Homo sapiens: one gene and its partners. The protein of the gene in region 6 purifies or fractionates together with the protein of the main gene of each other region. This does not show direct contact. Each region holds a gene or a part of one and is shown on either strand. Other genes may lie near its edges.

Evidence for each region.
Region 1: the proteins of TBC1D9 (region 6) and ROCK2 purify together in Homo sapiens (affinity purification with mass spectrometry; one large-scale study listed by BioGRID and IntAct). This does not show direct contact.
Region 2: the proteins of TBC1D9 (region 6) and LONP2 purify together in Homo sapiens (co-immunoprecipitation; one large-scale study listed by IntAct). This does not show direct contact.
Region 3: the proteins of TBC1D9 (region 6) and PKN2 purify together in Homo sapiens (affinity purification with mass spectrometry; one large-scale study listed by BioGRID and IntAct). This does not show direct contact.
Region 4: the proteins of TBC1D9 (region 6) and NAA25 purify together in Homo sapiens (affinity purification with mass spectrometry; one large-scale study listed by BioGRID and IntAct). This does not show direct contact.
Region 5: the proteins of TBC1D9 (region 6) and SH3PXD2B purify together in Homo sapiens (affinity purification with mass spectrometry; one large-scale study listed by BioGRID and IntAct). This does not show direct contact.
Region 7: the proteins of TBC1D9 (region 6) and PUS7 purify together in Homo sapiens (affinity purification with mass spectrometry; one large-scale study listed by BioGRID and IntAct). This does not show direct contact.

What each region holds. Positions count from the first base shown.
Region 1 is NC_000002.12:11,194,203-11,198,220, forward strand, and holds part of ROCK2 (rho-associated protein kinase 2), read right to left. Parts: intron 3,504-4,018; coding exon 3,324-3,503; intron 3,147-3,323; coding exon 2,978-3,146; intron 824-2,977; coding exon 753-823; intron 143-752; coding exon 54-142; intron 1-53. UniProt on the Homo sapiens protein: Protein kinase which is a key regulator of actin cytoskeleton and cell polarity.
Region 2 is NC_000016.10:48,250,505-48,254,522, reverse strand, and holds part of LONP2 (lon protease homolog 2, peroxisomal), read right to left. Parts: intron 2,393-4,018; coding exon 2,158-2,392; intron 1-2,157. UniProt on the Homo sapiens protein: ATP-dependent serine protease that mediates the selective degradation of misfolded and unassembled polypeptides in the peroxisomal matrix.
Region 3 is NC_000001.11:88,686,848-88,690,865, reverse strand, and holds part of PKN2 (serine/threonine-protein kinase N2), read right to left. Parts: intron 1-4,018. UniProt on the Homo sapiens protein: PKC-related serine/threonine-protein kinase and Rho/Rac effector protein that participates in specific signal transduction responses in the cell.
Region 4 is NC_000012.12:112,105,858-112,110,335, forward strand, and holds the start of NAA25 (N-alpha-acetyltransferase 25, NatB auxiliary subunit), read right to left. Parts: upstream 2,927-4,478; 5' UTR 2,917-2,926; coding exon 2,859-2,916; intron 1-2,858. UniProt on the Homo sapiens protein: Non-catalytic subunit of the NatB complex which catalyzes acetylation of the N-terminal methionine residues of peptides beginning with Met-Asp, Met-Glu, Met-Asn and Met-Gln. May play a role in normal cell-cycle progression.
Region 5 is NC_000005.10:172,339,203-172,343,220, forward strand, and holds part of SH3PXD2B (SH3 and PX domain-containing protein 2B), read right to left. Parts: intron 715-4,018; coding exon 1-714. UniProt on the Homo sapiens protein: Adapter protein involved in invadopodia and podosome formation and extracellular matrix degradation. Binds matrix metalloproteinases (ADAMs), NADPH oxidases (NOXs) and phosphoinositides.
Region 6 is NC_000004.12:140,658,573-140,662,590, forward strand, and holds part of TBC1D9 (TBC1 domain family member 9), read right to left. Parts: intron 3,536-4,018; coding exon 3,321-3,535; intron 1,134-3,320; coding exon 1,016-1,133; intron 1-1,015. UniProt on the Homo sapiens protein: May act as a GTPase-activating protein for Rab family protein(s).
Region 7 is NC_000007.14:105,508,558-105,512,575, forward strand, and holds part of PUS7 (pseudouridylate synthase 7 homolog), read right to left. Parts: intron 1-4,018. UniProt on the Homo sapiens protein: Pseudouridylate synthase that catalyzes pseudouridylation of RNAs.

The DNA of each region.
Region 1 (4,018 bases), on a different chromosome or scaffold from region 6:
TCTCTTATACTTTAAAAGATATAGTTTCTAAATATTCTAACAAAAACACTTACTCTATATCTAAAACCATGTAAGGATTGGATTGTTCTTTATCTTGTTCACTGTCATAGAAAAGAATCTTCTTACTGCTTACAATCACATACTGTTAAAACAGGGAGAAAAGAAATCAGTAATTCAAGTTTTTATATACCTTATTTATTGATTTTTTTGAAAATAAATTCTATATTAGCAATAAAAATCATAAAATACTAAGTAACTAAAAAGTATTTAATATATCTTTAGGACAGTCTTCCTTAAAATAACAATAAATTTTGTTTATATTAATAGATATTTTAAATAAGCAAACTGTGGGGAGAAGTAAAGTCAAATTTTTTTGGACTTAGCTTTGGGATCCAACATCATTAGTAACCTTCTCAAAAATAAACATAATAACATCAATAATCATAGTAACAGAGGAAAATAAATAAGTGGGTCTTTTTTACTATATTCACAGTTCTTTTCCCAACAAAACAGCAAAAGTATCAAAATCAACAATTTCCTAACAATAAAATCTGTCTTATTATTAACAAGGTATGAGGACAAAAATTTTTTACAAAGATAAATAAAATCATATCATTTCAAATCCTGAAGTATAAACAAGTTCTATGTGTCTAAAGGTACCAGTCATGTATATCCTACAACTACAAAAGCCAAATGACTAGAGTTAAAACAAAAACAAAAACAAAAGGCTCATATTCCAAAGTATCAATTACCTTTTTAACCCATCCAAATTTCTTAGTGTTGTTTCGTACAGGCAATGAAAGCCATCCTTCTAATCTTGATTCTACAAATAAGCACAACATGTGAGGCTAAAGATAACAATTCTCCTTAGATAACAAAGAACTTAATAAAATTTTAATATGAAATTTATAAAACAAATAAAATATATCCTTTAGAATTTATCACTATACATCATCTAGGATACAGTAATAGTACAGGATCAGTAGTAAAAAGTTATGCAATGCAAAACAAAATCCAGGTTATATCATATTGGAAACAGATAGTCTATACTTTTATAAAGTCAAATGTTCCATTGATTAAATTCATGCATTTATAAAATTCAGGAGAAAAGTTGCCAAAAAAAAAAAAAAGGCAGCAGCAGCAACTCTCTATTCTCACTGGTACACCTGCCTTAGACTCCTTTATTTTTCCTTTGGAAGAGGGCCACATTGTGCACATTTTCAAGGAGTAAATATTTTAAATAATTACGTGTTCAGAGAAAATGGACTTTTAGAATAACTATAATAAAATAAAATAATGTAAATTTTGTTTTATTTTATTTCTTTTTTTTGAGATGGAGTCTTGCTCTGTCGCCCAGGCTGGAATGTAGTGGCGTAATCTTGGCTCACTGCAGGCTGTGCATCCTGGGTTCCAGTGATTCTCCTAACTTGGCTTCCCAGGTAGCTGGGATTACAGGCACGCGCCAGCACGCCCAGCTATTTCTTGTATTTTTAGTAGCGATGGGGTTTCACCATGTTGGCCAGGCTAGTCTCGAACTCCTGACCTCAGGTGATCTGTCTGCCTCAGCCTCTCAAAGTGCTAGGATTATAGGCATGAGCCACCACACCTGACCAATTACGTACATTTTAGATAAAATTTGGTTAATAAGCAGCAAAATAATCAAAAGATTTCTAAATTCCAAAATATCAAAATCAGTAACATTGTAATTCAACTAAGGAATGTGTATGAATCCTCGGAATTTGTTTTAATGACATTTGATCAATGTCTTTTAATGAAATAAATATGTGAAATAGCATTTGGGGAAGTTATTCTAATAGTAAAAGTAGCTATCACTTATTTAACTTCTATTATGTATCAATCGTGCTGGATGCTTTACACAAATTCTCTTTAATCCTAAAAAAACCGCACAGAACAGGAATTATTTTCCTAATTTAGATGAGGAAACTGCAGTCTTGAAAGATCACACAGGGCTGCCTCTGACTCTGAATGACGGAACTCTCTGCTGTTTTCATTTAAACTGTAATCTCTTTCAGGGTAACGATCGGGCCAAATTCTTTCATGTTTCTTATGAAGGACATATGCCTAGGATAATGTCAGTAAGTACTCAGTAAAAACCTTAAGCATATCCTTTGAATCAGTCGAAGTACTTTTTCTGTACCACCACTCTTGTTATGAAACTTCAGGAAGAATTTCTTCTTGGTTGAAAATGGCTAAAACAAGCAGTGAAACCATGCGCTCTTAAGCAATATAATGTATTACTCCATTTCTCGCAAGTTGGCATCTATCAATTATAACAGCAATGCCATGAGAAAATACCTTAAAAACAAATTCTTTATTCATGCAGCAGTTTATTTTTAACTGAGTCTACAACAACATATTAGAGTTAGTGGTTATTAGTTAATGTTACATAAAAAATCTTCAAAAGGACTAAAATTAAGGGTAGTGGGAAAAACTCCAAAGATGAGAAGATTTTCAGGATATCACCTGTACCATTAGGTTCCGATGAAATGGGTAAGTAAGGCAAAGATTCTTCTTCTGAGTCAGAATCAGAGTCAAGGAGCGTGTGAGAACTGGAAGGCTTAGTGGCAATATTGAGAGAAGTAGAGGAACGCTGGTAGGTGAATGACATGGATTCCATAGTGTGTGACTGAGTGATATGAACTAAACACCCAACATAAAAGGAAGTAAGAATGCAGAAAGAAGAGAAAATGAAACGAAAGCTTAAAAATAGAGCTAATATAATAATTTAAAAACTAGACATGTGGAGTTTTTCTTTTGTATGTTTATGAAAAACTTTGTAAAAAAAATCAATAAATAAAATAAGTTTGAAATGTTACTTGAATCCTTACTCCAAGGAGTAGGTTTTCCCTTAAAGAAATTACAAACATTTTTCCTTCAGAGCAGTCAGTCGCAAGACTTAAAACAATCAACTGATTTATATTTAAGATAAATATTAGTGCTGAAAACAAATCCATACCTGGAAACCCATCATCTGCCTCAGCATCCCCTGGTCCACTGCCTATACTGGAACTATCCAGACCAATATGCAAGGCTTGGAGTTGTGACCGCAGCTGCTCAATGTCACTGTCTTTACTGTCCAATGTCATCTGCAGTTCAATTCGAATCTGGCTCTCTTCAGCTATTTGCTATAAGAAATTTAATTACAATAAGTTAATTGGATGCAACATAACTCAACATTTTGCTTCTTGGTTCAATAATAATTATTAAATAGAAATGGTCTATAACCAGTAAAACACAGACATGAAAATAATTCTACTTCTTAAAAAGAAGTCTTCAGTCTAGAGTCCAAAAAGTATTCTTACTGCCTGCATTTCATTCAGTTCTTTCTGATACTTGATCATCTGCTGGGTCAATTTCTCACGTTCAGATTTAAGCTCCATATGTAGCTTTCTATTCTCCTTCTCTTTTCTCCGCACATCTGTGTCATTACCACGCTTGACAGGTTCTTTTCGATTCATGATCTCAGCCAACTTATTCACAGCCTTAAAAAATGTAAAAATAAATATAATACATAAATAAAATAAATTACGTTTATGGTTTCTCAGTATCTCATCAAGAGCAACAAGTTATACAATCACAAATACTCTCCTTCCCTACATACAGGGCTACAAAGAAACACTTTCTATAATATTTAAATAATACACCTCCTTTACTACTCATCATCCTTCTCCATCCAATGAGCCATTAGATTTTTACTCGTGTTTTCTGAGAATTATAATTTAAATATTTATAGAATTGATCTGATGTTGCTTTCTACCATTTTGACTTTTTAGTTCTAGAGAGACTTTAATAGGCAGACCTTTCTTCTTTTATTCTGGAGGAAGAACATTTTGCAGTGACATCAAATTAATAAAATATTCTATGTGCAACAACAGTGAAGAGTATCTAGTACCCCACCTGTTCATGCAGTACATATGCAACTGTAGGAGTTGGCAGAGAGTGAACTAACTGACACTTTTCAGGTTGTCAGCAAATGGTCAATCCCAACAGTTCTTAA
Region 2 (4,018 bases), on a different chromosome or scaffold from region 6:
GCGTGGTGGCGCATGCCTGTAATGCCAGCTACTTGGGAGGCTGAAGCAGGAGAATCGCTTGAACCCGGGAGGCGGAGGCTGCAGTGAGCCGAAATTGCACCACTGCACTCCAGCCTGGGCAACAGGGCAAGACTCCATTTCAAAAAAAAAAAAAAAAATCAGAGATGGAAGAGCACTCCCAGCAGAGAACTGAAGGCAGAATCATAGAGACATAAAATAACTCAATGTGAAGCTGTTTTACATTCAGTAGAGCTAGAACTAGGGTGTCAGTGAGGTGATAACTAGAGTTGACGCAAGACAGATAGGCCCAAGACAAGTTGCAAACGGTCTTAATGTTATACTAAGAAATTTGGTGTCCATCCTATAGCCATTAAAGTCTTTTACTCAAGGGAATGGGATGCCCCAGACTTCTTTTAGAAAGGCTCAGTGAAGAGAAAAGGTTCAAGACAGAAGAACTAGGAGACAGGATGCTATTGAAGAAGTTCATTGAAGAGATGCAGAAGTAGAAGTAGATGCAGAAGGGGATGAAAGAGAATAATTGGAAATAACTTTAATGTCTAAAAAGAGAAATTATAAAATTAGTATACATTAACTCAATGAAATTAACAAAAGTACTTAATATGAACATCAGACATGGATACAAAAACAAAACATATAATTGAATATGAACTGAGCCCAGAAGACGAACAAAAATTAAATTTGATGCATGATGACAGTAAGATGTGTGGTGATCTATTTATTTCTAAAAATTCCTTTAATGTCACTGCAAAATCTTTACAAGTTTAAAAAGTTCCTCTAGATTCAAAGTACAAAGAAGTAAAAGCAAAGCAAAAGAGGCTATGAAGCTATCTATGTCCAATAGAGGCACAAAGACCCAGGGAACATCACTGCTGAAAAGAAAAAGAAATTCTATTTCTCTCAATCTCCTTTATTCCTAAGCAGTATATTCACTTATTCCAGTTTTCAAACTGAAATTTCTTTCCTCAAAGTGCTTTCTTTCAGCCCATATAGAAATTACAGATTCAAATTTTCTATTTTTCTTTTTTTTTTTTTGAGTCAGGGTCTCGCTCTGTTGCCCAGGCTGGAATGCAGTGATGCAATCTTGGCTCACTGCAACTTCCACCTACTAGGTTCAAGTAATCCTCCCACCTCAGCCTCCCCAGTAGCTGGGACTACAGGCACGCACCATCACACTCGGCTAATTTTTGTACATTTTGTAGAGACGGGATCTCACCATGCTGCCTAGGCTGATCTCGAACTACTGGGCTCAAGCAATCCACCCACCTCAGCCTCCCAAAGTGCTGGGATTACAGGTGTGCACCAGCGCACCTGGCCCTCAAATTTACTATTTTTCTGTTATTGTTCATTACACTGTAAGTATGGCTCTTCAAATGCCACATCAGATACAAATACCACTGGCTATGAACACTTGCCCCACACATATTTCAATGATCAGTAGTATTTATAATTGTGACTTTTAAACATTATCTGATCCTCATAGATCTAGTTATAGTCACTGGATTAAACTAATAGAAAAGTAGAAGACTATACTTTATAATTTTATGTTTCATTAAGGTTTGAAACAAAATGGGGTGGGAATAGGAGCTTTCTGTTCTATCTAGAGTTAACCAAAAAGAACTAGAATTAAAGAGTCAAATATTTAATGCATATCTAAAATGTGCTTCCTTCCCAGCATTCTAGTTAATCAAGGTTTTAACCATACTTGAAATCAGCCCACCACAGGCTTGATCTACCATAGTTACTGCTAGACAATGTGATCTTGACTTTTGAAGTAATATATTGTAATTTATATAAATGGTGCCTAGATATTTTAGTGACAGACAGCTTCTGTGCAGTATTTCGTTTTTTAGCTTTAAATATTTAGGTTTAATAATTATCTAGTTTAGAGACAGTAGAAGTTAGAAGGAAAGCTGTAGAAATAACATTTGGAAAACTTTAGAAAGGGTAGGCCAATATGTCCTGGAATGATTTAGGTACAACCCCAGATAAGAGTAAATCAGAATTAATATATAATGTTACTAACTCATTTAAATGTATACTGTCCTAAAACTTCACTATCCAACAGATTCACCATATCTTAGGAAAGCAAAAGAACCAAAGAAAAATGGGTTTTAAGAAAAAATAAAAGCAACTTACTTGTACTGCATATTTGTAAAACTGCTCTGATAGTTCTCCTAGCTCCTCCCTCATTTTACAGGTGTTGGGAAACTCCTCAAGTCGGTCCAACTGCTCCACTTCAGCAATGGGATATGGCTTCTCTTTTAAGACCTGTACAATCTGGAAACGGCATAGGCCTGTAATCAACAGAGTGTAGTGGGGCTTGGGCCAGTTACTGCCCACAACCTGAACGGCCAGTGCAGCTGTGCCAATCCTGAAAAACACACAAAACATCGGTATTACAAACATTCAATACGGTAGAACAGAAACTCACTTCAGAAAGTGTTGGCTTTTCTGATACATTCATTAAGCAAAAGACATCTGAAGTGTAAATAAATTTTTTCTCTATTTAACTTAGCATCCAGTATGTGGCCTCTTCTGCCACTACCCTCAGCTATATGGCAAAGCAGACCATCTCACTATAATCTGCACCTCTTTTAAAAAATTAGGTAGGAATTTGTAAACACTTGGATTATTCAAGCGTAAAAATGTAAGAGAAAAGCAGCTGAGAATTACATATCTTAAATTAACATTGTCAACTAAGAATAAGGCAATCTTATACCAGGATAAATATTATCAATTTAAATACATTTAAATATAAATAGCATAAACCAATCTAAGAAATCTCCGTTCCAACACCAGTTGTGCTACTAACATCAAGTCAGTTTTCTTACATAATCAGTCTATGAAACTTCCACATACCCACCTTATCACAAGCTGCCATCACATACTGGGAACTTATATATATGCCCTTAACACTGAATTTCTAAGTGTGAGGGCTAAATATTACAGTCCACACACTGCCATAGACTGAGGAGAGCTAAAGAAAGACCCACATCTCAAAAGGTCTCAACCTAGTTCTAAGTGGTAATCATTTTACCTAACAATAGGTGAAAAGGCTTCAAGTCTCAGCTCCTCATCAGCAAATACAACTCTGATCAAGTCACATATAAATTTAATTCACAGAAAGGAAGCCTCATCCAAACTAAGTCAGTTATATAAAATACAAAAATCAACATTGAGAAGACAATTCCAGATCCCAAAATAAATAATATTTTCTCCCTTCAGCCATAGGAAAAGTGGTAATTCCAGAAAAGAAAATAGAAGGACTAGAACTCTCAACACCCTAGGAAAGCGGTAATAGAAGAACACCACACCTGCCCATCTCAAAGATAATAAATCATGTAATACAGTATGTGACTATGTGAGTGAACTTGCTTACTTCTATACACAGTGAATTCTTGATTACTTCCTTATAAATTACTCATTCCGTAGATTACACATAGCCTTTGGCTTCTTTCTGCCACTCAGTTTATTCTGAACTACGTCTATCCTTTTCTTACCTTTCAGTCATTACCATGTTTACAATAAAAACTGATTTAAATAATAAGCCAAACAACTGAGAAGATAAATTGGTGAGGGAAAAAAATCACATACATAAAAAACTTGAAATTATTTAGCAATTAGCTATTATTTTGACTTATTTGTGTTGTGGCTGCTTTTCTTCAATCAATAGTAGATAATATTTCCCACTTCCTGAAAGCCCACTCAGATTGCCTGAGGAAGTGAGCCACCTCTAAACTGATTAGAGAATAACTTAAACATAATTAATTGCAGATGATATTCATCACTGTTTGTACAATGCTGAAAGAGCTCACAGTCCTGTTTGTATATAAAACATCCACAGACAAGAAACTGGATCCCCGGCCTAAAGGGTTTACAAAGTAGAAACCAAGGAGGAACCAGAAAGAGAGATGAGACAAATCCAAATCTCCGATCAGGAGACAAATTTAATTATTTGGGCTATGTCATTGCTAAAAGGTGATGCTAAAGAGTTGTT
Region 3 (4,018 bases), on a different chromosome or scaffold from region 6:
TATATCCACTCATCTTTATGAGGCACTTCAACACTACCTTCACATTTAAGGTGTTTACTGTCATCAAGTACACTGTCCCATGCTTTCTTGATCTTCATTTTTTACAGGCAATATTTATGTATATAATGTTACACAAATTTCATTTTTGTGATTGCAAAAAAAAACCAAGTATGATAATAGAGCTAGTTTCAAACAAGATTTCATCAGATAAAATTAAGACAAGCTAGACATGCATCAAGATAAAGATTCTCTATTTCTGTTTCATTAAGGAATTACTTTTTCATTAGTATATTTTTCCCACTCTAAATTTTAAATCTTTTTAAAGCTTTTAACTAGTTTTCAACTTTGCTGTCAAGTTTGAACTCTGCTGTATATCAAAAGTTGATCATATTAAATGTCATATACTGTAGAGTAAAATTGGCTTTTGAAATAATATAGACATTTGACAATTATCAGCACAGTATATTTTATGAGGGAATAATGTAGAATTAACTGTTTTATTCAAATACCATTTATGGTATGAAAGTAACATTATTTTAGGTGATGTTTACAAACTACTACTTTATTTGTTTAAAAGTAAACATGCTTCTGATGAATGGCATGAAAATTTACCATTGCCAAATTCAAAAAGCAGAAATAAGAGAGCCCAAGGAATCAGATGCTAAGCTCTGGGATAAAGAGATGATGTCTAAAAGGTGCCCCTACTTGTCCCTATTTCAACACTATGTGAATGGTAGGAATTGCATGATACTAGACCTAATCTCTATTACACTAATGAGAGATGACAAAAAAATCCATTTTAGAGCCATCATTTAGTAACACTAGTTTTAACACAGACTTTTATCTTGGTAGTCAAGAAATATTTGGAAAGTTATTTAGTATGTTTAATTCAGCAAAGTATGCGCTGCAAATTACAAACATTGTGGTAGTCTATAAGAGCAGCAACAATCAAACCTAAGCCGGAAAAACACACTGTATTGCTATATTATTCAAAGAAATTGTTGCTATACTTCATTACTGTCTATTACTAAATCCATACTACTGCACTTTTCTTTGAGACAGGTTCTCACTCTGTCACCAAGGCTGGAGTGCAGTTGCGTGATCTCAGCTCACTGCAACCTCCGCCTCCTGAGTTCAAGCAATTCTTGTGCCTCAGCCTCCCAAGTAGTTGGGATTACAGGCACACATCACCACACCTGGCTAATTTTTGTATTTTTAGTAGAGACAGGGTTTCACCAAGTTGGCCAGGCTAGTCTCGAACTCCTGACCTCAGGTGATCCGCCTGTCTCAGCCTCCCAAAGCACTGGAATTACAGGTGTGAGCCACTATGCCCAGCCTGCACTTTTCTTCTTAATAAAGCCGTGACTCATAATTGAAATATTTTGAGATTAAAAAAGGCAATAAAAGCTAATTAGATCCACTCATCTAGAACCAGTGGCAAGAAAAAAGTTTTTAACCTACTGTGATTTCTATCTTAAAATTCTCTGAGCTTCATTTTTCTTCAAAATTCTAGTAAGTAAAATGAGATAAAGAAAAAAAAGAAAAAATGGACTCTACAGCCATGGGACTTTTAGGTGGAAAAAGTCTGTCAGTCTCTAAGTGACAGAACTATGAGCAACTTTTATTTTCTTTTGTGCTTTTCCACATTTTCTGGATTTTCTGTAATACATGTGCATTACATTTCTAATTTGAAAACAATGTAAAGTCTGTCTTAACTACCCTGTTTACCTTCTCATACCACCAACCCCCAAACCACCCTAAAATTTTAATCCTCCCAACTCAGACCTTCCACTTTCCAGTGTCACTGCAAAATTAGATGCCGTCTTCTCATTTTCCATTAAATGAGTAAACTACCAGTGTGCTATATGGAAGAATGATGTAACTACTATAGAAATCCCTTTTGTACTTTTAAAGAGAATATTTTTGGGAGAAGGGATTAGAAATGTAAATTAAAGAAAACTACGTAATTTCATATGTCAAAGATTATAATGAACTTCTCTTAAAATAACCTAGACATCCCTCCTCCTACGTGACAAATGGAGCATTCTCATCAATGTATTGCGCACCTACTAAGTGTCAAACACAGAGCTAGGTTACATGTGAGTATAAAATTTTAAAGCAAAGCACAGTCTACAGAGTAATGTTAAATCTTTTGGGAAGTTTTGGGCAAGCATGTGACACCTTTCATTAGAAACAGTAATTCTTAATGAAGAAACCCTGTAAAAAGATTATTTGTACTATTATTCTTTGTGAAATATTAGACTGTATCTACAATAATAAAACACTGCTAAATTATAGACTACCAAGTGGAATGTAGAAATCATTTTTCCTTGTTACAGACGGAGCTAACAAGTAGTGTAAAGTTAATGTTGGTTAATTACGTTTTTGGCCAATTTGTAGAAAGTTCATACAACTATAACATTAGATGCAAAACATTTATAGTTCCCCAGAACTGTGGCAATTTAAATAATGGTGTAGTGGCGCCGGGCATGGTGGCTCACACCTGTAATCCCAGCACTTTGGGAGGCCGAGGCAAGCGAATCACGAGGTCAGGAGTTCAAGACCAGCCTGGCCAACATAATGAAACCCCGTCTCTACTAAAAATACAAAAAATTAGCCGGGTGTGGTGGCAGGTGCCTGTAATCCCAGCTACTTGGGAGGCTGAGGCAGGAGAATCGCTTGAACCTGGGAGGTGGAGATTGCAGTGAGCAGAGATCACACCACTGCACTCTAGCCTGGGTGACAGTGCGAGACTCCGTCTCCAGAAAAAAAAAAAAGAATAGTGTAGTGGGAAACATACAGACCTGGGTTCAAACTCAGACACACAATGTAACCATGAGCAATTTCCTTAACATTCTTGAACTTGTTTCCTGATCCACAACATGGAAATAACACCTACCTTATTGGATTGTTGTGAAGATCAAATAAGGTGTATAGGACACTAAGTACAATGTCTGATATATAGCAAATAATTTTTAAAATGTTATTTGTAGTCTCTTATAATTATCTTCTAGTACAATTATCTATACTCTCTTCTGGAAAGCAAAAACCTATCTTGTCATCTTTATATCCTCCAATATAGCTTTGGTAGATACTACATAACTGTTTGGTGAAATTAACCCCTGTAATTTAAGGGTAACTATCTCAACTTTCCACTTGAGCAAGTTACCTCTATCTAAATAAAATCTGCTGAGAATGGAATTTAAGATTCCCAGACCAACACTTTATTGGGCATTTTGATGAAGAAAATGAATCTCCAATAATCAACAAGGTAGCTTTGTTAGTACACTGCTCAATATTTGGTCTGCATTCTACAAAATTACCATTGTAGCCAACACTTTCATTCTGAGATTCTTTACAGTTTTCATTAATCCAGGTTTCTTGGAAATAGACTTTAGTTTCTTTGGCATTGCAAAAATGTCTGTTTTCTGCTATACTTCAAATAAAAAAAGAGAATACAACACAACAAATTAGTTATGAGATAAAAATTAGAAATTGGCCATTTTAAACAGCCGATTTTTATTTTTACTACAGTAAATATTCTTCCTTATACCTTGAAACCTCTAGCCACCAAAGTTTACATAGTTTATTAATGCTTCCTTGTTGAATAAGCCTCCTGAATTACTAACAATACTTAAAAACATTACTCCATGCTATTACAGTAATTAACAAGACAGAATACTGTAGTTTCAGATTTTCTTACTTTGCCTTTCCATGACCAAAAGCCAATTCCAGCTCAAGCAGTGGAGTATTTCAAATTCTACAATTTGAAAAAATAATGAAAAGCTGGATATATTTCTAAATAAATATCAATTTTATTAAAGCCAGGTTGTAATATGTAACTTTCAGAGTAAACAAGTATTCCTGAGACAGGATACATAGCAAAGTAACAGTTTTAACCATTAAATACATCTTAAAACTGGCTACAAAACTTCTTAAATACTTAAAATCTGTATGGCAGAGAAGAATTAAGAACTTCATATTAAACAGTATTTCAGTCTAAATTCAAACAATTTAG
Region 4 (4,478 bases), on a different chromosome or scaffold from region 6:
ATCTTACCTACCTAATAGGGCAGTCAGCCCACCAGTAAACACTAATTAATGCTGATAGTTGTTGAATTTTTGGCTGGTGGGCAAGTACCACCATAGATGAGTTTGTTCATTTGTCAGAATGTCTGAATTCAAGGAACCATGGTTGTTTGGGGGTAGTAATGTATTTAAACAACAAAAGTGTGGAGTTCAAAAGTCAAATGTGCTTAAGTGCTGAATTCACGGACAGTCTGTACCGTTCTTTTCCTAGTCCTGCCAGTTTATACTAATCGCCTTAGAATTACTGAAGAAAGCCTCTTCTAATCCTCTTCCCATGTACATGTTACAAAAGCTACATAATTCTGACTTCAGTTTTGAGAATATAACTTGTTAATATATCCTGATGTTTAGTGATGTGAAATGGACATGGTGTTTCCCATTAGACAGTCAAAACACTATTAATTCTAAATAACTATGGGACCAAAGAAATTCTCTTTGGTCCTCAAGAACAATTTTAAAAATCAAATTATTCTTGAAAGTATTGAGTGTTTTTAGTTTAAAAAAAAAAAAGTCTGCAGGCAGCTGCTGCACAAAGCTGTAATGAGTCACAAACTATGAACCCTGGATTCAGTTCTCACCTTCCATCACCCACCTTGTATATATATCTCTGCCCTCTGAAAATATACACTGGAGGGCAAGGGCATGAGAATATGCAGCCCCGGGGAAATAGGAAATCAGAGTCCTTTCTCTGCCACTTACCATCTGTGTGACCTCAGGCAAATCAGTGTCTTCAGCTCAAAGTGAGGTAGTTTCTAGCACAGTGGTTAAGAAGGTGAGCCTGGGCCAGGCACAGTGGCTCACACCTGTAATCCCAGCACTCTGGGAGGCTGAGGCAGGACTGCTTGAGCTCAGGAGTTTTAGACTAGACTGGGCAACATGACGAAACCCATTCTCTACAATATATACAAAAATTAGCCGGCATGGTGGCGGGCACCTGTAATCCCAGCTACTCAGGAGACTGAGGCAGGAGAATCACTTGAACCCAGGAGGCGGAGGCTGGTTGCAGTGCACTGTGATTGTGCAACTGCACTCTAGCCTGGATGACAGAATGAGACTGTCTCCAAAAAAAAAAAAAAAAAAAAAAAAAAGGTGAGCCTGGAGCCAGGCATGGTGGCTCACACCTATAATCCCAGCACTTTGGGAGGCTGAGTAGGTCAAGAGTTCAAGTCCAGCCTGGCTAACATGGTAAACTCCTGTCTCTACTAAAAACATGGAAGTTCGCTGGGCCTGGTGGCGTGCAACTGTAATCTCAGCTACTCAGGAGGCTGAGGCAGGAGAATCGCTTGAACCTGGGAGGCAGAGGGTGCAGTGAACTGAGATTGTGCCACTGTACTCCAACCTGGACGACAGAGTGAGACTCATCTCAAAAGAAAAAAAAGGTGAGCCTGAAACAGTCCACAGGGGTTCAAATTCTAGCTCCAAGAAATACTAACTGAGTGGCCTTAGACAAATTACACAACAACAATAAAGCCTCAGTTTCCTCATCTGTTTTTTTTTTTGTTGTTGTTGTTGTTAAAGGGTTCAGGGGCAGGAAAAAACAGTAGCCACCTCTTGAGAATGGGTGAAGATTATATTAGATAACCCATATAAAAGGCCAAGGCCAGTGACTGTCATAATGAGTCATCTATAAACCTTAGCTATAGGATTGTTGCTAAAATCAAATGAGATGTGAGAGTAAAAAAAAAAATCACACAAATTATGAAATAAAAGCCGGACTAACTGTGGCCAGAAACAAAGTTAACCACCGCCCCCCGCTCCCAAAACGATTCCCACCTTGGAGAGAAGCCTCCAATTTAGTAACATCCACATGAGGTCTATAAATACGATGTCTACTTTTGTAAAAACCACTGACCTTGAAGCTTCCTCACCATTAAGTGAGATAGACCAAGACCATAAAACCATCTAAGAGGAAAGGAAATGCAAAAAGGACCAATCCAATTACACATTTCGGTTATTGGAAAAGGGTTTCTCCCAAACTCAAAATCTGTGATTTTTCACTACCAGGGTAAATGGATGAGATGACATCAAGGTCTTCAAGTCTGCGGGTTGAGGTAAGAGTTGTGGAGAGGGATCTGCTTAGCACAGGGAAGGAAAGCTGCAGAGAAAACCACAGAGAAGCTGCAGAAAGGAGAAGCCCTCCAGTAGCTCTGCATGCCCCTCTGACACGAGCTATCACAATCTCTTCACCGCTATTTTAGGCCCAAGACCCCCTCCCCCCGCCTCCCACGTGTGACCAGAGTAGCTGCTTCTCCACCCAACAGCTCTGGATTGGGAGCCTGGAATCTCGGGCCTGCTCCTGACTCGATCTGGGTGACCTTGCGTCAGCCCCTTCCCCACTCCGGACCTCAGTTTCTCCTATGCACCGAAGCCCACCTAGTCAGACAACCCTCTAGGCCCAATTCCCGTAAATAAAAAAAAATCTCTGGTAGGGAATCTTCCCTCAGGCAGGGCGTCCCACCCTCGTGCCGGAGCCGGCTTCCACCTTCGGGGAGATCTCCGGTCTCCCTAGGAGCGGCGGTAACGATGCAGCCTGCGGGTAGCGCAGGTGTCTGCAGAACCACGCGTCCCACGGGGCCTGCCAAGCAGGCCAGCTCTGCCGACCAGCTGCTGCCCAGACCGCGCCACTACCACCCCAAGGCTGAGGAAGGTTGGGCCGGCGCCTACGCGAGGCCCGCGGCTGCGGCCTAGTGGCCCGCGCGGCCCGCCCCCCTGCGCCTGCCCGGCCCGCGCGCCGGCCCTCAGCACCCCTCCTGGGCTTTCGCCCCAGCCTCGGCAGCCCTCGGCGCGTCGGGCTGGCGAGCGGGCTGGTCCAAGACACTCACCGTAAATGGGCCGGAGGCGCCTGTCGTTAGGGTCCTGCACATGGCCCCGCGTCGCCATGATGACAAGCGCAGAACCACAGTGCGCACGCGCGGGGCAGGACCCCGGGAAAGGGCTATTAAAGGGCCAGCGTCGATCTCGCTTGTCTATCACGATAGTCGCGGTGCTGCGACTGAACGCGCCTGCGCGGAAAGGGAAGCATCCACCCTTGCCGATTGCCACCTCTTTAAACGCTGTTCCTTCACTTAGCAGGTGGGATCAAGCTGGCAAGAGGAGGCAGCTGTTGCTGTTAAAGTCTTCCGAGTCACTGACTGGGAAGTTAGGAGAGGAGGGGAGAAAGCTCTCAAAGTTAGGGTTCGGCTGCTCCTGTTTATCCTATTTATTCTCCGTCCTGAAGAACCAGCTAGACTTGGCTGTGATTAATCGCAGAGGAACCAGAAACTCCCGGGGGAGAGAGACCCAGGGGAAAGTTGGGGAAGCGGGGCTGATCAACAGCAAAAATCTGCCAAAAAAGTTCGAGAGAGCCGGGCGCTGTGGCTCAGCCTGTAATCCCAGCACTTTGGGAGGCCGAGGCGGGCGGATCACAAGGTCAGGAGATCGAGACCATCCTGGCTAACACGGTGAAACCCCATCTCTACTAAAAATACAAAAAAAGTTAGCGGGGCGTAGTGGCGGGCGCCTGTAGTCCCAGCTACTCATGAGGCTGAGGCAGGAGAATGGCGTGAACCCAGGAGGCGGAGCTTGCAGTAAGCCGAGATCGCGCCACTGCACCCCAGCCTGGGCGACAGAGCGAGACTCCATCTCAAAAAAAAAAAAAAAAAAAGAAAAAAGTTCGAGAGCCCTCCACCACCTGTTCCTGGACCAAACTGAGCGTCAGGCTGCTGTTTCTCCTGGTTCAGTAAGGAGATGCAGATGAACTGGAGAGGAAGCGAGTTTTTATTTCTGCAACCAGTTACAGGGAGAAGGCCTGGAAATTATCACCAGACCAACTTAAAATTACAAAGCTTTCCAGAGCTTATATACCTTCTAAGCTATATGTCTACGTGTAAATGTGCATTCATCTAAAGACATAAGTGATTAACTCGCCGGGCGCGGTGGCTCATGCCTGTAATCCCAGCACTTTGGGAGGCCAAGGCGGGCGGATCACGAGGTCAGGAGATCGAGACCACGGTGAAACCCCATCTCTACTAAAAATACAAAAAATTAGCTGGGCGCAGTGACAGGCGCCTGTAGTCCCAGCTACTAGGGAGGCTGAGGCAGGAGAATGGCGTGAACCCGGAAGGCGGAGCTTGCAGTGAGCCGAGATCCCGGCACTGCACTCCAGCCTGGGCGAGGGAGGCTCCGTCTCAAAAAAAAAAAAATAATAATAATAATAATTGATTAACTCACTTTAGTCTATAACTAAGGTTTGAGTCCTGAAGACTTTCCTTTGAAGCCTCAGTAAATTTACTTAATCTAAATGGCAATAGGTGCTGGGGTGATTATCCTTATCTTGCCTCCTACTAAATCACGGAGGTTTGGGGAGTTACTTCAGACCCCCAATAAAATTTGTTTAATCCTAAATGGGTCCTGTTAGGAATTCTTTCGTTATTTTGTCATGCTTTAAGGCCAAGGAAAGGCCT
Region 5 (4,018 bases), on a different chromosome or scaffold from region 6:
GGGATTCTGGGGAGTGGCATCTGGCTTCTCCTCTGGCAGGTCAGTTTTGGATTTGGAGATGGGCCGGAGGTTGGGCTTCTTCACTTCCTTGGCCAAGACCTTGTGGCCACACTCCAGCCCCATGTCATTTTTCAGCTGGAACAGTCTGCTTTTGTCAGGTTTGGGCTCTGGCCTCCTGCTGTCCCGGGCTGGAGGGATGTGTTTGGCTGGCATCATCGGCAAAATCACGCCCGGAGGCTTGGGAGTGGGGCCCCGGAGCTGCTCCGTCCTCTGCCGCTCCCGCTCCCGCTCCAGCAGCTCCCCCTCCGACTTGATGATGGATTCTTTCCGCGGAGGGAGGCTGGGCTTCTCCTCCATGTCGGGGTCTGAGATCTCCTCGTAGCCTGCTGACGCAGACATGTCTGAAGATGCCTTCCTCAGGACATCCTTACTGCCCTTCCAGTCTTTAGACCATGGCAACCCCGAGTCCATGACACCATGCGGTGCGTCAGGCAGGGGCCGGGAGGGGCCCGTGGCTTCGCTGCCCGTGTTGTTCTCCAGCGCTGCTGCTTCCCCCAGCCGGAGCTGGGTCACCTCGTGGGGCAGGGGAGCCAGAAAGTTGGGTCTCGACGCGTTGCTCGTCTTCTTGTACTTGTCAATGAAGGTGGCCGGGGCCCACCCTTCCTTATCTTCAATCTGAATGTACCACCAGCCACTCAAGTTTTTCTCGATCACCTGCAAGGGAGGATAGAGAAAGGCACTTGGCTACGATGCCAGGGCCAGCAGATGGAATGGTTTGGCAGAACCCATGTGCAACTGGAGCTCTAGAAGCTGTCACTGTGTACTCAGCAGCTCCTCTGACAAGGTCTACAGGGACCACCAATGGAGATGTTACCATGTTCCGGGAATATCTTACATGGGGGGAGAGTCTTGTCGTATGGGACTCCCCCTAAAGCAGTCCATGAGATGTGGCCTTGGGTATAGGTACTTAATTTGAGAGTTGGTCCTAGGAAATACAAGTAAGGAAGTAGACAGAGAAAGAAGGGAAAGGGAGAGGCCAATTATGAGCAAGTTATTGCTCGGGGCCATGGGGCTTGATCTGCCAGGGACCCTCTGAGAGACCACAAAGACAGTGCCTCAGAACGGGTCCCTCTGGGGATGCGTGCATTTATCTATTGACTCTCAGCTCCTCCCTACCCAGGGTATTAACTCCTCTCCCCTTCTGGGAAGCTGTCGGCTTGCAGGGACCTGTGTGTAGGCGCAGGTGAATTCAGGTGGATCAGAGGCACCGGCAGCGTCTGCTACAATTCTAAAGACAAGGCAGAAGTCAGAGCTACCCTTGATCCTGGCTTCTTTGGCTGAGCATCGGATGAAGAAGTTAGCTGGCATTTATAGAGTCCACAACACATGAAAGAGACCTACCTTTTTTTTGAGACAGAGTCTTGCTCTGTCACCCAGGCTGAAGTGCAGTGGCATGATCTCAGCTCACTGCAACCTCCGCCTCCCAGGTTCAAGCGATTCTCATGCCTTAGTCTCCCAAGTAGCTGGGATTACAGGCATGTACCACCACACCTGGCTAATTTTTGTATTTTTAGTAGAGATGGGGTTTTACCATGTTGGCCAGGCTGATCTCGAACTCCTGGTCTCTAGCGATCTGCCTGCCTCGGCCTCCCAAAGTTCTGGGATTACAGGTGTGAGCCACTGTGCCTGGCCTGAAAAATATCTATCTTTGAACACAGGAATCACAGTCAGCTCAAAGAGATGCTCGTGTTTATATACAGGGGACCTGGAGCTGGTGGAGTAGAGTAGATTTTCATCGTGTCCCTACTTCCCTGTGGGATACACGCCTGTTGGCTGGAATGGTGGGTGGAATCACTCATGTTGTCTAAGATCTTGTTCTCTGTCTCTTTTTTGTCCAGCACTGCGTGGCTGAATTCACACAGGTGAAAGGTGTGCTCGCTATTATGGGCTGAATTGTGTCCCCCTACCCAAATTCGTATGTTGAAGCCCTAACCCCCAATACCTCCAACTGTGACTGTACTTGGAAATGGGGCCTTTAAAGAGGTGGTTAAGGTTAAAATGGATCATTAAGGTGGGCTGAGTTTGGATGTATGTCCCCACCCAAGTCTCATGTTGAAATGTGATCCCCAATGATGGAGGTGGGGCCTGGTGGGAGGTGTTTGGGTCACGGGGGCAGATCCCTCATGAATGGCTTGGTGTCCTTCCCTTGGTAATGAGTTCCCATGGGATCTGGTTGTTTAAAAGTGTGTGGTGTCTCCTTGCCACTCTCTCTTGCTCCTGCTCTTGCTATGTGATGTGCCTACTCCTGCTTTGCCTTCCGCCCTGAGTAAAAGCTCCCTGAGCCTCCCCAGAAGGCAAGCAGATGCTGGCACCATGCTTTCTGTACAGCATGCCCAACTATGAGTCAAGTAAACCTCTTTTCTTTATAAATTACCCAGTCTCAGGTATTTATTTATTTATTTTTTTGAGACAGAGTCTCGCTCTGTTGCCCAGGCTGGAGTGCAGTGGCACTATCTCGGCTCACTGCAGGCTCCGCCGCCTGGGTTCACGCCATTCTCCTGCCTCAGCCTCCCAAGTAGCTGGGACTACAGGCGCCTGCCACCGTGCCCGGCTAATTTTTTTTTTTTTGTATTTTTAGTAGAGATGGGGTTTCACCGTGTTAGCCAGGATGGGCTTGATCTCCTGACCTCGTGATCTGCCCATCTCGGCCTCCCAAAGTGCTGGGATTATAGGCATGAGTCACCGTGCCCAGCCAGGTATTTCTTTATAGCAATGCAGGAATGGCCTAATACATGGGCCCTAGTTCAATATGACTGATGTCCAAATAAGAAGAGGAGATTAGAAAACACACAGGGACTGAGGGATGACCACGTGAGAAACAGCAAGAAGGTGTCCATATGGAAGCCAGGGAGAGAGGACACAGGAGAAACCAAACCTGCTGACACCTTGATCTTGAACTTCTGGCTTCCCAAACTGTGAGACAATAAACTGCAGTTGTTTAAGCCACCCAGTCTGGTATTTTGTTATGGCAGCCATCACAGATGTACACTGCAATTCCCTGGTAGGCTCTCTCTGGACTCGGAAGATCTGATGAACGCTCATGACACCCTGTGAGTGGGGAACTGTCACCTCATTTTACGCATGCAGAACGGAGCCTCAGGAGAGCTGAGGAACACACAGCGGGTCCTGTAGAAGGGCCGTCGATCGGAGGAGAGTCAAAGGCAGCGGGGTGGGCTTCAGAGTCACCTAATCTTGCCTCTCAGAAAAGAAACCCCTGGCCGGGCGCGGTGGCTCACACCTGTAATCCCAGCACTTTGGGAGGCCAAGGCGGGCGGATCACCTGGGTCAGGAGTTTGAGACCAGCCTGGCCAACATGGTGAAACCCTGCGTCTACGAAAAATACAAAAAATTAGCTGGGTGTGGTGGCATGCGCCTGTAATCCCAGCTACGCGGGAGGCTGAGGCAGGAGAAACGCTTGAACCTGGGAGGCAGAGGTTGCAGTGAGCCGAGATCGTGCCATTGCACTCCAGCCTGGGCGACAGAGCAAGACTCTGTCTCGAAAAAAAAAAAGACCCTGCTTGGAGAAGGGCTGTGTCCGGGGTAAGAAATTGCAGAAGGAGCAAAGATGGCTGCGGGTACTTTGTGGCCCTTCTGGGAGAGGGATGGCAGCCACAGACTCAGCGCCAGGACGCAAATGCTGGGCTCCTGGGCCTGCAGTCCTGGGTTCTAGTCTTGGCTCTGCCACTTACTGCCTGAGTGGCCTGGGGCAAGCCACGTGCCTCAGATTCCACATCACAGAAGGAAAATGGTAAGAACAATTTAACACCCACTTGTAGAATTTTTGCAGCCGCAAGAGCTAATGCATACAACAGCACTTGGTAAATAATGCTGCTGCGATTAAATTAGAGTGGAGGTCACTGAGCCAGCGGGATGCACTTGACAGGCAGCACTTAATGAGTCCCACTGGAATCTCCAGGAAAGGCCACTGATAAATGTAAGCTGTTTATGTGAGGATGAC
Region 6 (4,018 bases):
GCTGAGGCAGGCGGATCACCTGAGGTCAGGAGTTTGAGACCAGCCTGGCTAACATGGTGAAACCCTATCTCTACTGAAAATACAAAAATTAGCCAGGCATGGTGGTGGGAGTCTGTATAGTCCCAGCTACTCAAAGACTGAGGCAGGAGAATCACTTGAACCTGGGAGGCGGAGGTTGTAGTGAGCCAAATTCACGCCACTGTACTCCAACCTGGGCGACAGAGCGAGATGGTCTTAAAAAAAAAAAAAAATCACACTTCTGGATGCATGGTGCCCACAGATTAATCATTTTTTAAAACAATTACTTTTTAAAAAAACTTAAAAGCATTCCTGTTGTACACATTCATGATCAACGTAAGGACATTTTTGACAATATTTTCAATAATCAAATTCATGTGCAAATGTTTAGAAATATAGAAAGAACACAAGTGAGAAGCATAAACAATATACTGTACAACCCAAGCAATGAAAAGCTTGTCCTGCTAAAATGAATCACTGATATTTGAGAGAATTACAAGGAGTAACAGCAATAATTTAAATCCTCAAAACAGGTGTTTGCTTTGCAATAAAACCAGTCCTGAAAAATACCTTAGAAACCTAGCTTTCAATAAACCTCTATATTCTATTTTTTCCACCCCAGATAGCCTTTTTTTGGCAACACCTCTGTATTTCGTAGGTTCCCATCCTCTTTATTAATTTTTTTTATCAAATCTCTTTGTGTTAATGGTGCACATACCTGGTGTAGCTCTCACATGTCAGAGTGACACACACACATGAAATATTTTCTAAAATAATTTCTGGAGCAGGCGTATGTGTATAGTCCCTTAAACTCCACGGGGCTCCTTTGTATACAACCTATATTTATTCAACCTCTCTCATTTCCATTTTGAAAAACTGGAGTAGTCTGAAACTCTTTTGGCTTATGGTGACCAGAAATAGTGTTCTGGCTGGCACCTCTCTAAAAGCATCTTCTTGACGAGACATAGGTTGAAATGTTAAATGCATCTCCACTTACCCACAACTCTGGTGTTGTAGTAATCTGGGAGCATGCGCTCACACAAAGCCACAAGCAGCCAGAAAGCTTCCTCCTCTTTGGCATAAAGCAGCAGCACTGAAGTGACAATATTCATGGCCTAAAAAAGTGAAAGAGGATGTCATCAAATACAGTTGAAAATATAAGCAATTCTGTTAGCATATTAAAATTACTCAGTTATTCTCACAAGGGCTGGCAAACCTTTTCTGTGAAAAGCGAGATAAATATGTTTAGGCTTTGGAGGCTTTACACATAGTCTCTGTCATATATTCTTCTGAGTTTTGTTTTATGACCCTGTAAAAACATAAAAACCTGAGTCCTTGAACCAGTAAGTGTGCAGGGTCTTCCTTAACACCAATATTCACCAGACAGAGCCCCGAACTCATGCTGGCAAACCCCTATTCCAAAAATTTGCCCAAAGGCTATTTCACAAAGCTTTTAACCTGCTAAAATCTCTCAGTGTTCTTAATCCTTAATTCAGTGAGGTAAACATTTCCTTTGTAACTTTCCGTAATGGTTTCTATAATCAGGTACACATGGCTCCAGGCTCTCCTGAGAGAACAACGAAACCTTTCAGACTTGGAGTCCTCACCCAACATTTCCATACGGAGAGAGATGGTAGTGATAACTGAGAGTGATTTAAATTCTAAAGTAACTGTAGTTTATTAAAAGATATTATCAGATACCTCATAACCACTCTAGACTCAACTACTTTAATAGTCTTCTTAATTAAAAAGAGGAAGATCAAAAGGTAAATATGAACTTTATCATATTAGAGGCCAACTACCTCCTGTACTTCTTTTGATCTCCCAGAAACCGGTAACTGTTCATCAGGCTTCTACAATTCAATTTCAAAAAAGGTATTTTGGTTTAATAGGCTCTTTCTTGTAAGTCTTACTCATTATGTTCCCAAGTGACATCATCATGGAAATTCCACTTGAGAATTAACCTGCTGATCCTAGTACATGATGATGGTCCCTGCCAGTTCCTTAGTCATTTAGCGGAGATAGGTTTTTTTAGGGGTCTACCTTGTAACAGGCTCTGGACTAGGTATTGGAGGATGGGGGACAGAGTGGTGATATCTTGCAGGTCCTAAATGCTAGTGTTAGATAAAACAAAGATGAAAAGGTTAACTAGTCTATGTGGGGGGTTATTTAAATTGGAAGTTATAAAGAGGTAAAATAATGCAGTAGAGGGAGACTAACGTGTGCATGTACGTGCACTTGTGTGTTGAAGTAGGAGTTCAGCCTCTTTTAGCTTTTGCTGGATGGTCAGGGAAGGCCTCTACAATGATATAGCCTTTGATTCTTTCTTTTTTTTTTAATTTGAGACGGAGTCTTGCTCTGTCGCCCAGGCTGGAGTGCAGTGGTATGATCTCAGCTCATTGCAAGCTCCACCTCCCGGGTTCAGGCCATTCTCCTGCCTCAGCCTCCCGAGTAGCTGGGACTACAGGCACCTGCCACCACGCCTGGCTAATTTTTTGTATTTTTAGTAGAGACGGTGTTTCACCGTGTTAGCCAGGATGGTCTCGATCTCCTGACCTCGTGATCCTCCGGCCTTGGCTTACCAAAGTGTTGGGATTACGGGCGTGAGCCACCGCACCTGGCCGATATAGCCTTTGATTCTAAGGTCACGTTATTTTGGAGCTTCCCAAATTTTGGCATCTATACCAGTACAAGAGATGACTTTTGTTGGTATGTAGGCAACTTTTCTTAATACTAAGTTAAGCACTTATTTTAATGTGTATTAAGACATAACCCTAGCATATAAAAGCTCTATTCAAGGACATTATTACTTAAGAGGATGCAAAGTAGCAACACTGTGGCGAACCACAGTGACAGGCCTGGTGCTGAGGATGCCCTCTCTTACTCCAGGGTGGGATGAAGGTTGAGGCAGACAGTGATCAGAAGGATCTTCTCCAGGTCACCTAGCTAGACAGTGGTGAATCCAGGAAGGTCTCCTCCATTCAGTGCAGTGGTTCTCAACCCAGGATGATTCTGCCTCTCAGACATCTGGCAATATCTAGAGACATTTTTGGTTGTTACAACTGGGGATTTTCTACCAGCATCTAGTGGTAGGGGCCAGGGATGTTACTAAACATTCTACAAAGCATAGAACAGCCCATACAACAAAGAGTTAACAGTCCAGAGTGTCAACAGTGCCAAGGTTGAGAGGCCCTGGTAAAGTGATAGTTCTGTTAACCATAAACCTTCCTTCCCACTATTTGCTGCCAAATGAATAGAAATTTTATTTTATTTTTTTAGCAAAAACCACCTGTGACATTTACCTGGCAATACCCTATGTTGGGATTTCGAAAAGCATAAGCTGTTAAGACTCTCCTTAGTGCAGCAATGCCCATTTCATTCTGAAAAGCTGGGTGTTCTGGAAGGGAGCGGTGTAAATCCCTCTCAATCTCCTCCGTGGCGAGATTATACTTCCCCATGGACTTCTCCACTAGGTCTTCATAGTACCCAGGATGTGTGGCCTTCTCATTGATGGCACCTGAGATATATCCAACAGATACAGTATCAAAAACGTGAGAGCTCTGCCTTTTGGTTTGCAACTACAGCTTATGATTGAACTGCTTTACTTTCCTACCTCTCAAAGGAAACTTGCAAGAGAAGGTGAAATCACAGATGTGGTATGTTGCAATCGTGGCTAGACTGGTGAATTTGCCTGTGGCCTCCTTCCCTCTTTCAGCTCCATAGTAGGCTGGCTACTTAAAAACTTTCCTAAGGTAGAGGTTCCCAAGCTACAAAACCATGCTCTGAGGAACTCCCACAGACAGTCCTGAAGGGCTGCTTAGGAGCACAGGTGGGGAGGTCATCATAACAAGCCAGGCTGAGGCTTCACCTTCTCATCACTCTCTTCAACCCCAGCAGCTTTGCTTTTATTTTATTGTGGTTTCATTAAGATTTCACTTGAAATAGGAGGTTCTGTCTCTCAAAATAAGTCTGAAAACTGCCTGCTAACGTGTTAGCTCTG
Region 7 (4,018 bases), on a different chromosome or scaffold from region 6:
GTAGAAAGTAACAATCACCTATATAAAAGCTGGTTTCAGGCCGGGCGCGGTGGCTCACACCTGTAATCCCAGCGTTTTGAGGGAGGTTAAGGCAGGCAGATCACTTGAGGTCAGGAGTTCAAGACCAGCCTGGCCAACATGGTGAAACCTCATCTCTACTAAATATTAGTTAGGCGTGGGTGGCAGGCGCCTATAGTCCCAGCTCTTGGGAGGCTGAGGCAGGGGCATTGCTTGAACCCGGGAGGCAGAGGTTGCAGTGAGTTAAGATAGTGCCACTGCACTCCAGCCTGGGCGACAGAGTGAGACATTGTCTTAAAAAAAAAAAAAAAAAAAAAAAAAAAGGTCAGGCACGGTGGCTCACACCTGTAATCCCAGCACTTTGGGAGGCCGAGGTGGGCGGATCACAAGGTCAGGGGTTCGAGATCAGCCTGGCCAACATGGTGAAACCCCATCTCTACTAAAAATACAAAAAAAAAACTAGCTGGGCGTGGTGGTAGGCGCCTGTAATCCCAGCTAGTCAGGAGGCTGAGGCAGGAGAATCGCTTGAACCTGGGAGGCGGAGTTTGCAGTGAGCAGAGATCGAGCCACTGCACTCCAGCCTGGGGGACCAGAGCAAGACTCCATCTCAAAAAAAAAAAAAAAAAAAAAAAAAAAGGAAAGAAGTTGGTTTCAGCAGATAAAGGCATAGTTAATGTTGTTCATACGATCCTAAAAATCATTTATAGAAATAATTCTTCCAGATGTTGGCATACACTTTTTGTGGGACAGAAAACCGGCATAATACTTCCGCACATCATCACAAGCCTTAAAAATATGTATGCTCTTTGACCCAGTAATACTACTTTTAGGGATTTATCTTAAGAAAATAATTAAGAAATAATAAAGTTTTAGCTCTAAGGATATTCATCTCCATACTTTTTTCTTTTTTTCAGTGACAAGGTCTGGCTCTTTCACCCAGTCTGGTGTGCAGTGGCATGATCACAGCTCACTGCAAACTCCAACTCCTGGGCTCAAGCAATCCTCCTGCCTCAGCCTCCCCAGCAGCTGGGACTACAGCAGCATGCCACCAAGCCTGGCTAGTTTTTTTATTTTTATTTTTCTGTAAAGACTAGGTCTCGCTATTATTGCTCAGTCTGGTCTTGAACTCCTGGGCTCAAGTAATGCTCTCACTTTGGCTTCCCAAAGTGTTGGGAATATAGGTGTGAGCCACCCTGCCTGGCCACAGTGCTTTTATATTAGCAAAACATTAACAGCAATGAAACTTGGGTACATAAACTGAACAATATGTAGCAACATTGACAAGAAACTGGGAAGGGTGGTTACCTCTAGGAGAGGGTCTAGAAGTGGTGGCTGGGGACAGAGGTGGGAAATTTGCTGTTCTCACTCAATAACATGGTTGTAATCATTTGAAGCTTGTTTGATGTATATGTATTATCCTTTCAAAAAACTGATTAATATTGTGGCCGGGATCGGTGGCTCACACCTGTAATCCCAATACTTTGGGAGGCTGAGGCAGGCAGATCACCTGAGGTCGGGAGTTTGAGACCAGCCCGATCAACAAGGAGAAATTCCGTCTCTACTGAAAATACAAAATTAGCAGGGCATGGTGGCACATGCCTGTAATCCCAGCTACTCGGGAGACTGAGGAAGGAGAATCACTTGAAACCAGGAGGTGGAGGTTGTGGTGAGCTGAAATTGTGCCTTTGCACTCCAGCCTGGGCAACAAGAGCAAAACTCTATCTCCAAAAAAAAAATAAATAAATAAAATAAAATATTGTATAACCACGCTTACTGACATGAAAGCCATACCTATGTCATACCACATTAAAAAAAAGGAATGGGGAGGTGTCATACAGGTGGTATATAGTTCTGCAAGATGAAAAGTTCTGGATAGTGATTGCCTAACAATGTGAATACACTTAACTCTACTGAACTGTACACGTGGTTAAAATGGCAAATTTTAATTTTTTTTTTGAGACAGGGTCTCACTCTGTTGCCCAGGCTTGAGAGCAGTGGCACGATCTAGGCTCACTGCAACCTCCACCTCCTGGGCTCAAGCCATCCTCCTACCTCAGCCTCCCGGGTGGCTGGGATCACAGGCGTGTACCACCACGCCTGGCTAATTTTTGTAATTTTTGGTAGAGACAGGGGTTCACCATGTTGGCCAGGCTGCTCTCGAACTCCTGACCTCAAGTGATCTTCCCACACTGGGCTCCCAAAGTGCTGGGATTTCAGGCATGAGCCACCGTGTCTGGTCTAATTTGATGCTCTTGGTAAAATAAGGATAAAAACTTTTTCTATGTTAATTACATACAAGATGCTGAAGGTAACATACTGATGAATGTAGTAAACATATCCATAAATAAAGCAAATGAAAAGAAAATGAATATGCTAGTTCTCCAAGGCATGGTTAACAAGAAAGCCACCTATATAAGCATCTACAGCAAAATAATAATGATGATTAACTAAATGTTATTTATTTATTTATTTTTGAGACGGAGTCTCGCTCTGTCGCCCAGGCTGGAGTGCAGTGGCACGATCTTGGCTTACTGCAAGCTCCGCCTCCCAGGTTCACACCATTCTCCTGCCTCAGCCTCCCAAGTAGCTGGGATTACAGGCACGCCCGCCACTATGCCCAGCTTATTTTTTGTATTTTTAGTAGAGACGGGGCTTCACCATGTTGGCCAGGCTAGTCTCAAACTCCTGACCTCATGATTTGCCCGCCTCGGCCTCCCAAAGTGCTGAGATTACAGGCGTGAGCCACCGCACCTGGCCCCATTCCCGTTTAAACATCTGTATTCCCTGCCATAACATCTTTTGCCACCTATAGCTACTTGAAGTATGGTCTTGGAGCCTGTTGTACATTTAAGAATAAATTTTCATTTAAAAAAAAAAAAAAAAAGTGGTTGGGTACTGTGGCTCAGGCCAGGCGCATGGCTCATGCCTGAAATCTCAGCACTTTGGGAGGCTGAGGTGGGTGGATCACCTGAGGTCAGAAGTTCGAGACCAGCCTGGCCAACATGGTGAAACCCCTCTCTAGTAAAAATACAAAGATTAGCTGGGTGTGAGGGCACACACCTGTAATCTCAGCTGCTTGAGAGGCTGAGGCAGGAGAATCGTTTGAACCCAGGAGGTAGAGGTTGCACTGAGTCAAGATGACGCCACTGCGCTCCAGCCTAGGCAACAGAGCGAGTCTCCATCTCAAACAAAACAAAACGAACAAAACAAAACAAAAAAGTATTATGACAGCTACAAAAAATAGGAGAGAAGGGATTGAAAAAAATGTCAGTTAAAACAATTTCTGGCGGCCTGGTGCAGTGGCTCACGCCTGTAATCCCAACACTTTGGGAGGCTGAGGCGGGTGGATCACAAGGTCAGGAGTTCGAGACCAGCCTGACCAACATGGTAAAACCCCATCTCTACTAAAAATACAAAAAATTATCCAGGCATGGTGGCGGGCGCCTGTAATCCCAGCTACTCAGAAGGCTGAGGTAGGAGAATCGCTTGAACCTGGGAGGCGGACGTTGCAGTGAGTCGGGACTGCACCACTGCACTCCAGCCTGGGTGACAGAGAGAGATTCTGTCTCAAAAAAAAAAAAAAAAAAAAAAAAAAAAATCCTTTGAAAGACAAGAAATTAAATACAGAAAATGGAAGAAACTGAAACTGGAATAGAAGTAGACCACAACTGTAGTTACATAAAAGTATCCCTAATTCAAAGAAAAAAGCATTTACTCTTTGTCCTGAACAGGTGTAGTCAAAAAAAGAACGCTGGTTTATGAAATGCTGACACGATTTCACTCTCACCTTACAGCAACAAAACTACCCTCAGAGGTTTTGTACAAATGAAGGAGACAAAAATGGACCAGGGCTTACACAAGGACCGGGAGAACACACTGAAGACAAAACCTAACCAAAGACTACAATGCCTGGGCCAAATTTTGTGGCATAAGGAAGAGGAAGGAAAAGCAGGAGAAGGTCATTTGGGGTCACAGGTACAGCATGTGCAAAGGCATGGGG